Homo sapiens: one gene and its partner. The protein of the gene in region 2 purifies or fractionates together with the protein of the main gene of each other region. This does not show direct contact. Each region holds a gene or a part of one and is shown on either strand. Other genes may lie near its edges. The genes, in order: MYOF and RIPOR2.

Region 1 (3,824 bases), on a different chromosome or scaffold from region 2:
ACCTCAGAGCTGGGCTCCACTGGCCAAGAGGCCACCAGGCTCTTTCAGGCTGCTGCTGGGCTCCTGCGAGGTGGGCTTTCCATCACAGGAGAGCTGCCTTCCTGCTGATCACTGAGGACGAGGCCTGCACTGCAGCAATTCTCACTCTGAGCTAATGCAGCAAGTGTGAGCTGAAAATCCAAGTCAGAGAGTTGCTAAGAACCTACTATGCCCACACCCATTAAGATGGCTATTATGAAATAAAGAAGAAAAAAAGAAGTGTTGTCAAGGCTGTGGAGAAATTGGAACACTTGTGCAGTGCTGGTGGGAATGCAAAATGGTGCAGGATCTATGGAGAACAGTAGGCCATTTCCTCAGGAAATTAGAAATAAAATCCCAGCACTTTGGGAGGCCGAGGTGGGCAGATCACTTGAGGTCAGGAGTTCAAGATCAGCCTGGCCAACATAGTGAAACCCCTCCTCTACTAAAAATACAAAAATTAGCCAGGCATGGTGGCATGTGCCTGTAATCCCAGCTACTTGGGAGGCTGAGGCAGGAGAATCGCTTGAACCCAGGAGGAGGAGGTTGCAGTGAGCCAAGATGGCGCCATTGCACTCCAGCTTGGGTGACAGAGCAACACTCCATCTCAAAACAAAAACAAAAACAAAAACAAAAACAAAACTGTACACTTAAAATAGTTAAGATGGTAAATCTTACGTTATATGTGTTTTACCACAATTAAAAACAAAGAACCTACTTTGGCAATGCCTTCAAGCTGTTTGTGCAGCCACAGCTGACCAGCATCCTGTTTATTCTGAACAGCTAAGCCTGGGCCACCCCTTGGAAATGTCCCCCAGGACTCTGTATGTCCCTGCAGCAATGGGGGAAGAAGTGGGGCATAAAAGCCAGAAGACATGAGCACCTGTCATGCAACATTCTGTGTCAGCACTACGACAAGTTCTCTATATATTTTATCACAATTGCTCCCAACAACCTCCCTGTGAGGTATAGATTATTCTCCACACTCTGTAGATGAGGAAATGAAGGCTCGGAAATATAGTTGCCCAAAGACACCCAGCTCCTAGGGATAAAACCAGGAGTGAAAATTAATTTTTCGAATCCAAAGGTCATCCCTTTCCAAGTATTGTGTTGGTTACAGAAAGAAGGGGGTTCTTTTAAGTGAGAGGTTATGTCAACCAACAGAGTAAAGATGGAAAAGAACAGATCTAATCCCTGGAAGGAGACAGGCTGCAGAGTTCATACTCTAGGCCCCCAGAAGGCTGCCCTGTGAGTAGACACATCTGGTCTACCCACTTTGTCTTGGCCTTCCATGCCCCTTGGCCACAGTTAATTGGAGCAGGGCTGAACATCTGACCAAAACCAAGGCAATTGGTGTTTTTCTCTGAGCTATCTCATGCACGAGACGCTGCCACTGCAGTTGGATGTAGAGTCAAGACCCAGTCACCTTGCAGCAACCCAAAGCCCATGCAAGAGGCCTCACTAAGGACAGCCAATTTGCAGAGAGCCAACAATTATAGACAATATGCAGAAAAGTAATGGCTGCCATGTGCAGGGAGAAGCAGAGGCAGGAGGCTGCACAGTCCCTGGGAAATGAGGAGAGGGGAGCTGACATGATTCTGGCTCTTGTGAGGTCTGTGATCTGGACTCCAGATTTCTTTCTAGCTTTAGAAAAATCAAGGTTTCCTTGAGCACGCTGAAGTGGGTATCTGCTCCTTGTAATGAAGCAATTCTGAACCATGACTCCCTATCCTTTCAGATAGTACAACAGGCTAGGGAGAGAAGGACCTTATGCAAATGAACCATGGCTCAGCTTGGTTGAGGAAATGCTCCCCCATTTGATCTTTGGGAAGACAGCAAAATTTGTCTTCAAAGATCACTTTGTATTTCTGTTTTTGTTCGATCTCTTGGTGGCCTCCCTGCCGCCTCAGGTGGCTACTGCCCTCGTGCTGGCCTCTTGCTGAGCTACCCCAACCAGCCCTGCACTCGCCCACAGGGTGCACACTCCAGCTGGAAGCAAGGCAGTCTGATGTTCCATTTCACAGTACAGTGTGAGGAAGGATGGCCAAATTTGCCTGTCCAGTGTGGCTCCCTTATCACTTTAATTTAATCAGGTTGTTTCCTCAGTGTCTTTCCTTATTAGTGCCTTCCTTCTGATTCCAGTCCTGGGATGAGCTCCATCTGTGCTGAGAAGCATTTGACTCAACTAGTAAGCCTTCTTACTAGTCTCCCTGACTAGTACTAATCTGCTGTTCACATTGCGGCCTAGCGGCTCCCCAATGGTTGATGAGTAAAGTTCAATCCCTATTCATACCACGTTACTCCTCCCCATGGCTCTCTGGTCCTCCTGTACTGTTCCAAAGCCTGGAATGTCTTTTTTCCATTATTTCTGTCAAATTTCCACTCATCCTTTAAAACCAAGCCAAATGACACTTTCTCCACAAGCTTTTTCACTCTTTCATCTACTCAGATTGTAACTTTTCATGTCTATTCTGGTTTGCATCTCATTCTTGTGTGCTAACTAGTCGGTCACCTAGGCCTGAAAATCCAAGCCATCTTATGCATATTTTTCTAGACTTAGTTCCAGAAATACTCTCTGGTGCACTGTAGTGCTCCATGAAACTGTTATCAAATAGGTAAGGAGATTTATAGACTGCCATGTGCAATGTCACATGTACATTAATTTAATCCTCAAACAGCCCTGCAAGGCAGGAGATATTATTAAGAACACTGAAGCTGATTTTTTTTTTTTTTTGAGATGAAGTTTCACTCTTGTTGCCCAGGCTGGAGTGTAATGGCGCCATCTCAGCTCACTGCAACCTTCACCTCCCGAGTTCAAGCAATTCTCCTGCCTCAGCCTCCTGAGTAGCTGGGACTACAGGTGCCCACCACCATGCCTGGCTAAGTTTTTTGTATTTTTAGTAGAGACAGGGATTCACCATGCTGGCCAGGCTGGTCTTGAACTCCTGACCTCAGGTGATCTGTCCACCTCAGCCTCCCAAAGTACTGGGATTACAGGCGTGAGCCATCATGACCGGGCTTGAAGCTGCAGATTGTATTTGCTCATGAGCAACTAGGGATGGCCACTGGAATTCTCATTTAGGCATCCCTGGCCCCAGAGCTCAGGGCCTTTGTACCCTCATGCCCAGTAAGAAGTTAATTGATAAGGCTTAAGGTATCAAATGTCCCATAACTTTTTCTGATTGAGAACTGTGCTCAGACCTGCTCAAAGCACACCCCAGTGCAACAGAACAGCTGTTCAATAGAAATTACACAGTGAGTCAGCTGACCACTGCCATATCATGGCATTCTATATACTACGTTTCATGTATGAAGGTTCAACATAAAACTGGCAGCTTCATATTTTCCTTGCCAGGAACAAGAATGCAAAATGTCTTATACACCAATTTGCCCCCAGAGAACAGGTGCTAGGAACTGGTTGTACTCAGGGTTCATGAATACTTGACATGGTTCTTTGCTAAGCCTCATTCACAAACACCTGAGAGGATATTAAACGTAAAGGGCAATTGGATGACTTCCCAGGGTCTCTTTCAGGACTAAGCATCAAGGACTTTGTCACATTAAGGTGTCTGAAATTTCCTGCCAGTTCTTTGCTACATGCTCAATATTTAAAATGTATATTCAACATCAGTGATGTGCTGGGTGTTGCAGAGGATATAACAATCCCACACCTTCTTGGCAGGGCCAAATCCTACAGTAAAGGAGAAACACACCCGTGATTAGAAAGGAAAACCCATACCAGACAAATACCAGCACCCCTAAGCTGAGGGCACGCAGGTGAGATGTGTTGTGAAGGAGGAAAGAAA
Region 2 (3,501 bases):
AATTGCATCCTAACTGTTCAAGGTGGCGTTACGGACAAAACTGAACTAGCTGGTGGCTGGTAGAAGGCATCTCTGTATGTTTACATAGTAAAAAGTAATTTTTAGCTGAAGTTTGAAAGCCTAAGATTGATTTTACCACATATCATTTAGATGTATCGATATATAATGTATACAAGTAAAAGTTATGTAAAAGTTCAGTGCATTAGCCATATTGAAATCCCTAATGTACTTAAAATATAATCCATACAATTGCTCTAAAATAAATCGATTATATGAAATCATCAACATCAAATGGCCATAAGACTTCTACTCTGTTTCATACCCTGGCATTCTTTTGGTCTCTGGCATTAATTAGCTCAAAAGTTCTTGGTTGTTCTAAGCATTACCTGGAAAACAATGACATAATTAGGAATAACAAAAGATAACTTTTCCTTACCAAAAGTTAGCATAGCATATTATAGCAACCCATCCCTAAACAAATGGCACTATGTTACTTTGAGTAATTAATAAAAACGTTGTTTGAATTGGTATTCATGTTTAATGTTCTGTATTTAGGAGAAGATGGGCGGCTGGCATATGAACAATTGGACAAATTTCCTCGAGACTGTGTTAAAGTCGGAGGTCGTCATGGAACTGAAGTTGCCACAGCCTTTTAATTACAGGTTAACTGCCTAACAGCTGTCTTAATATCTGGCCCTTTTCATCAGGATGGTGCTGTGGTTTGGGCTGGAAATTGTTTAGAGCCTGAGAGACACGACAACTGAAATAAAAATGTAGGCCAGGTGCAGTGGCTCATGCCTGTAATCCCAGTACTTTGGGAGGCCAACGCAGGAGAATTGCTTAAGCCCAGGAGGTTCAAGACCAACCTGGGCAACATAGCAAGGCCCTGTCTCTACAAAAAAAATAGTTTAATTAGTCAGGCGTGGTGGCATGCACCTGTAGTCCCAGCTACTTGGGAGGCTAAGGTGGGAGGATTGCTTGAGCCCAGAAGATTCAGGCTGCAGTGAGCCATAATTGCCCCACTGCACTCCAGACTGGGTGACAGAGCAAAACCCTGTCTCAAAAAACAAAACAACAACAACAACTAAAAAAACATGTTATAGAAAGAATTCAGAGTCTCGTTTCACAGTACCTATCTACTTTTCCTTTGGCCAATATAGAATAGGGCTATGGTATAATTCAAATATATTACATCGTCGATTGTGTCTAATAATACTCAGTGAAAGAGTCCATCTTATCTTAATATGTATGAAATTTAAAAATAGCCATCTTTGTACTTTTTTGCAAGTTTCTCTATAAGCTTGAAATAGTCATGTGATACTTCGACAAACATCATATGCCTTGCAGTTTTTCTCGGTCGTGTTCTCAGGGTTGAGTAGTCCCCTTAGCTACCTAACTTTACTTTCAATACAAAGCACAAAAAAGAATATCTTCAAATAAAAGTTTGCCTGCAGAACCTGGCAAAATGACCCATTAGGAGAGTTTAGATGTTTTAATTTTATGTGCTCCCAGCTACTCTGGAGTCTGAGGTGGGAGGATCACTTGAGGCAGAGGTTGCAGTAAGCTGAGATTACACTACTGCACTCCAGCCCATGTGACAGAGGAATGAGAGCCAGTCTCAAAAAAAAAAACAAAAAACTCCCATAATTTATTTTGTTTCTTTTCCCCATCCTGAAAATTCCCAAATCATGTTTCCATTATGGAAAAATGATAAGTAAATGACTAAGAACTACATTAAGATTATGCCTATACACTTAAACAAAAAACTCAAAGCTTATGCTTTTTTTTTTTTAATTAATGAGAGCTATTTTTTATGATATTCTTACCATAGGGGTGTTTTGCTGCTAAGACAAATCAAAACCAAAAGCTGTAGATTCACAAACCTGTGATGCTCTTTGAGGTGGAGGAACCTAGAAGTCAGAGAAATCCTAATGGAGTAGGAGTGGAGGAACATTTAAAGTGGTCCCTCCTTCTGTAAAAATGACCGTGGGATTAGAAAGAAGGACATCCTGAGGGGTGGTTACTGCCCCCAGGGAAATCACTCACTGGTAGGATTCCCTGGCCAAATAGTTCAAACATCAGGTCCCATTATTGCTTCAGTATCAGAGATGCAAGTTCATTAAGCAAAGTACAAGACCATTCAGTAGCTCTTATTAAAATATCTTTTCTTCCTCTAAAGAGTGTACAAGGTGGGGTATGCCAAGGTATCAAAACAATATATGTGAGTGTAATTTAAACTGTGGAATATCAACTGTACTATGGACGTGTTTGTATCATTTAGATGTCATTTTAAATATTTACATTTTAGCAAGACTTTTAAAAAGGACTCATTTCATTTCAAAGTGCAAATTGTTTGCCAGGCTTCTGGCAAATGGTTCTTTCAACTGTGAACTTATCGTGTACATATCTGTATATTTATAAATATTATATATATTCATACATCCTTCACTTTAAAGGTACATTGTACAGTCTGTAGTTAGGAGGTATAGCCTATAGCTTATGTTAAATGGTTGAAATGGTTCTTTTTATAGAAAGTCAAACACAGATGTTACAGGATTTTGTGTTTGGTTTGTCATTTTTTTATTTTTTATTTTGACTATTGCATGAGTAATTAATTCCAGATCTTTTGTATTCACTTCTGTATTTTATGTTTGGTTGAGGGGTGCTTTTAGTTGTGTGGCATTTGTATTCATTGATCTTTCAGTCATGTAAGTTAAAATAAAAATTATTTTTGAATTACTAGCATCATGTGCAGTCTGATGTTATTTTTTTTCACATGCCCTTTCTGAGTTGGTATTTACAGAACACACTGCACCTCATTTTCACCTTTATTTTATTTTATTTATTTATTTTGAGACGAAGTTTTGCTCTTGTTGCCCCGGCTGGAGTGCAACGGTGCGATCTCGGCTCACCGCAACCTCCGCCTCCCGAGTTCAAGCGATTCTCCCACCTCAGCCTCTCGAGTAGCTGGGATTGCAGGCATGCACCACCACACCCTGCTAATTTTGTATTTTTAGTAGAGATGGGGTTTCTCCATGTTGATCAGCTGGTCTCGAACTCCCAACCTCAGGTGATCTGCCCGCCTCGAGCTCCCAAAGTGCTGGGATTACAGGTGTGAGCCACCACAGCTCGTGCTTTTATTTTCAATTTGAAATTCCTTTATCTCTAAATAGAGATAATAAATCTCAGTTTGTTGTAAAGCTAATTGGAGAGAAAACAGCTAAGTTTCACTGTTGTATCTATGAGCAGAGACTGTGAGCTCCTTGAGGGCAAATAGGCATGGTGGCTTACCCCAAGATCGTGCCACTGCACTCCAGCCTGGGCAACAGAGTGAGATTCTGTTTCGGGGAAAAAAAAATAAAAAGTGCCTTCACTGATTTGTGTATGTTCTGTTCCCACTCAGACCCCACCAGCATCATCACAAAGAAGCCCTTGACTTTCAACTCTGACAGTATTTACCAAGTGACTCGTTAAATACCAGTGATTGCTTTTACTGAGTCA

Evidence for each region.
Region 1: the proteins of RIPOR2 (region 2) and MYOF purify together in Homo sapiens (affinity purification with western blotting, with the first as the bait; one study listed by BioGRID). This does not show direct contact.

What each region holds. Positions count from the first base shown.
Region 1 is NC_000010.11:93,472,012-93,475,835, forward strand, and holds part of MYOF (myoferlin), read right to left. Parts: intron 1-3,824. UniProt on the Homo sapiens protein: Calcium/phospholipid-binding protein that plays a role in the plasmalemma repair mechanism of endothelial cells that permits rapid resealing of membranes disrupted by mechanical stress. Involved in endocytic recycling.
Region 2 is NC_000006.12:24,803,528-24,807,028, reverse strand, and holds the end of RIPOR2 (rho family-interacting cell polarization regulator 2), read left to right. Parts: intron 1-555; coding exon 556-656; 3' UTR 657-2,745; downstream 2,746-3,501. UniProt on the Homo sapiens protein: Acts as an inhibitor of the small GTPase RHOA and plays several roles in the regulation of myoblast and hair cell differentiation, lymphocyte T proliferation and neutrophil polarization.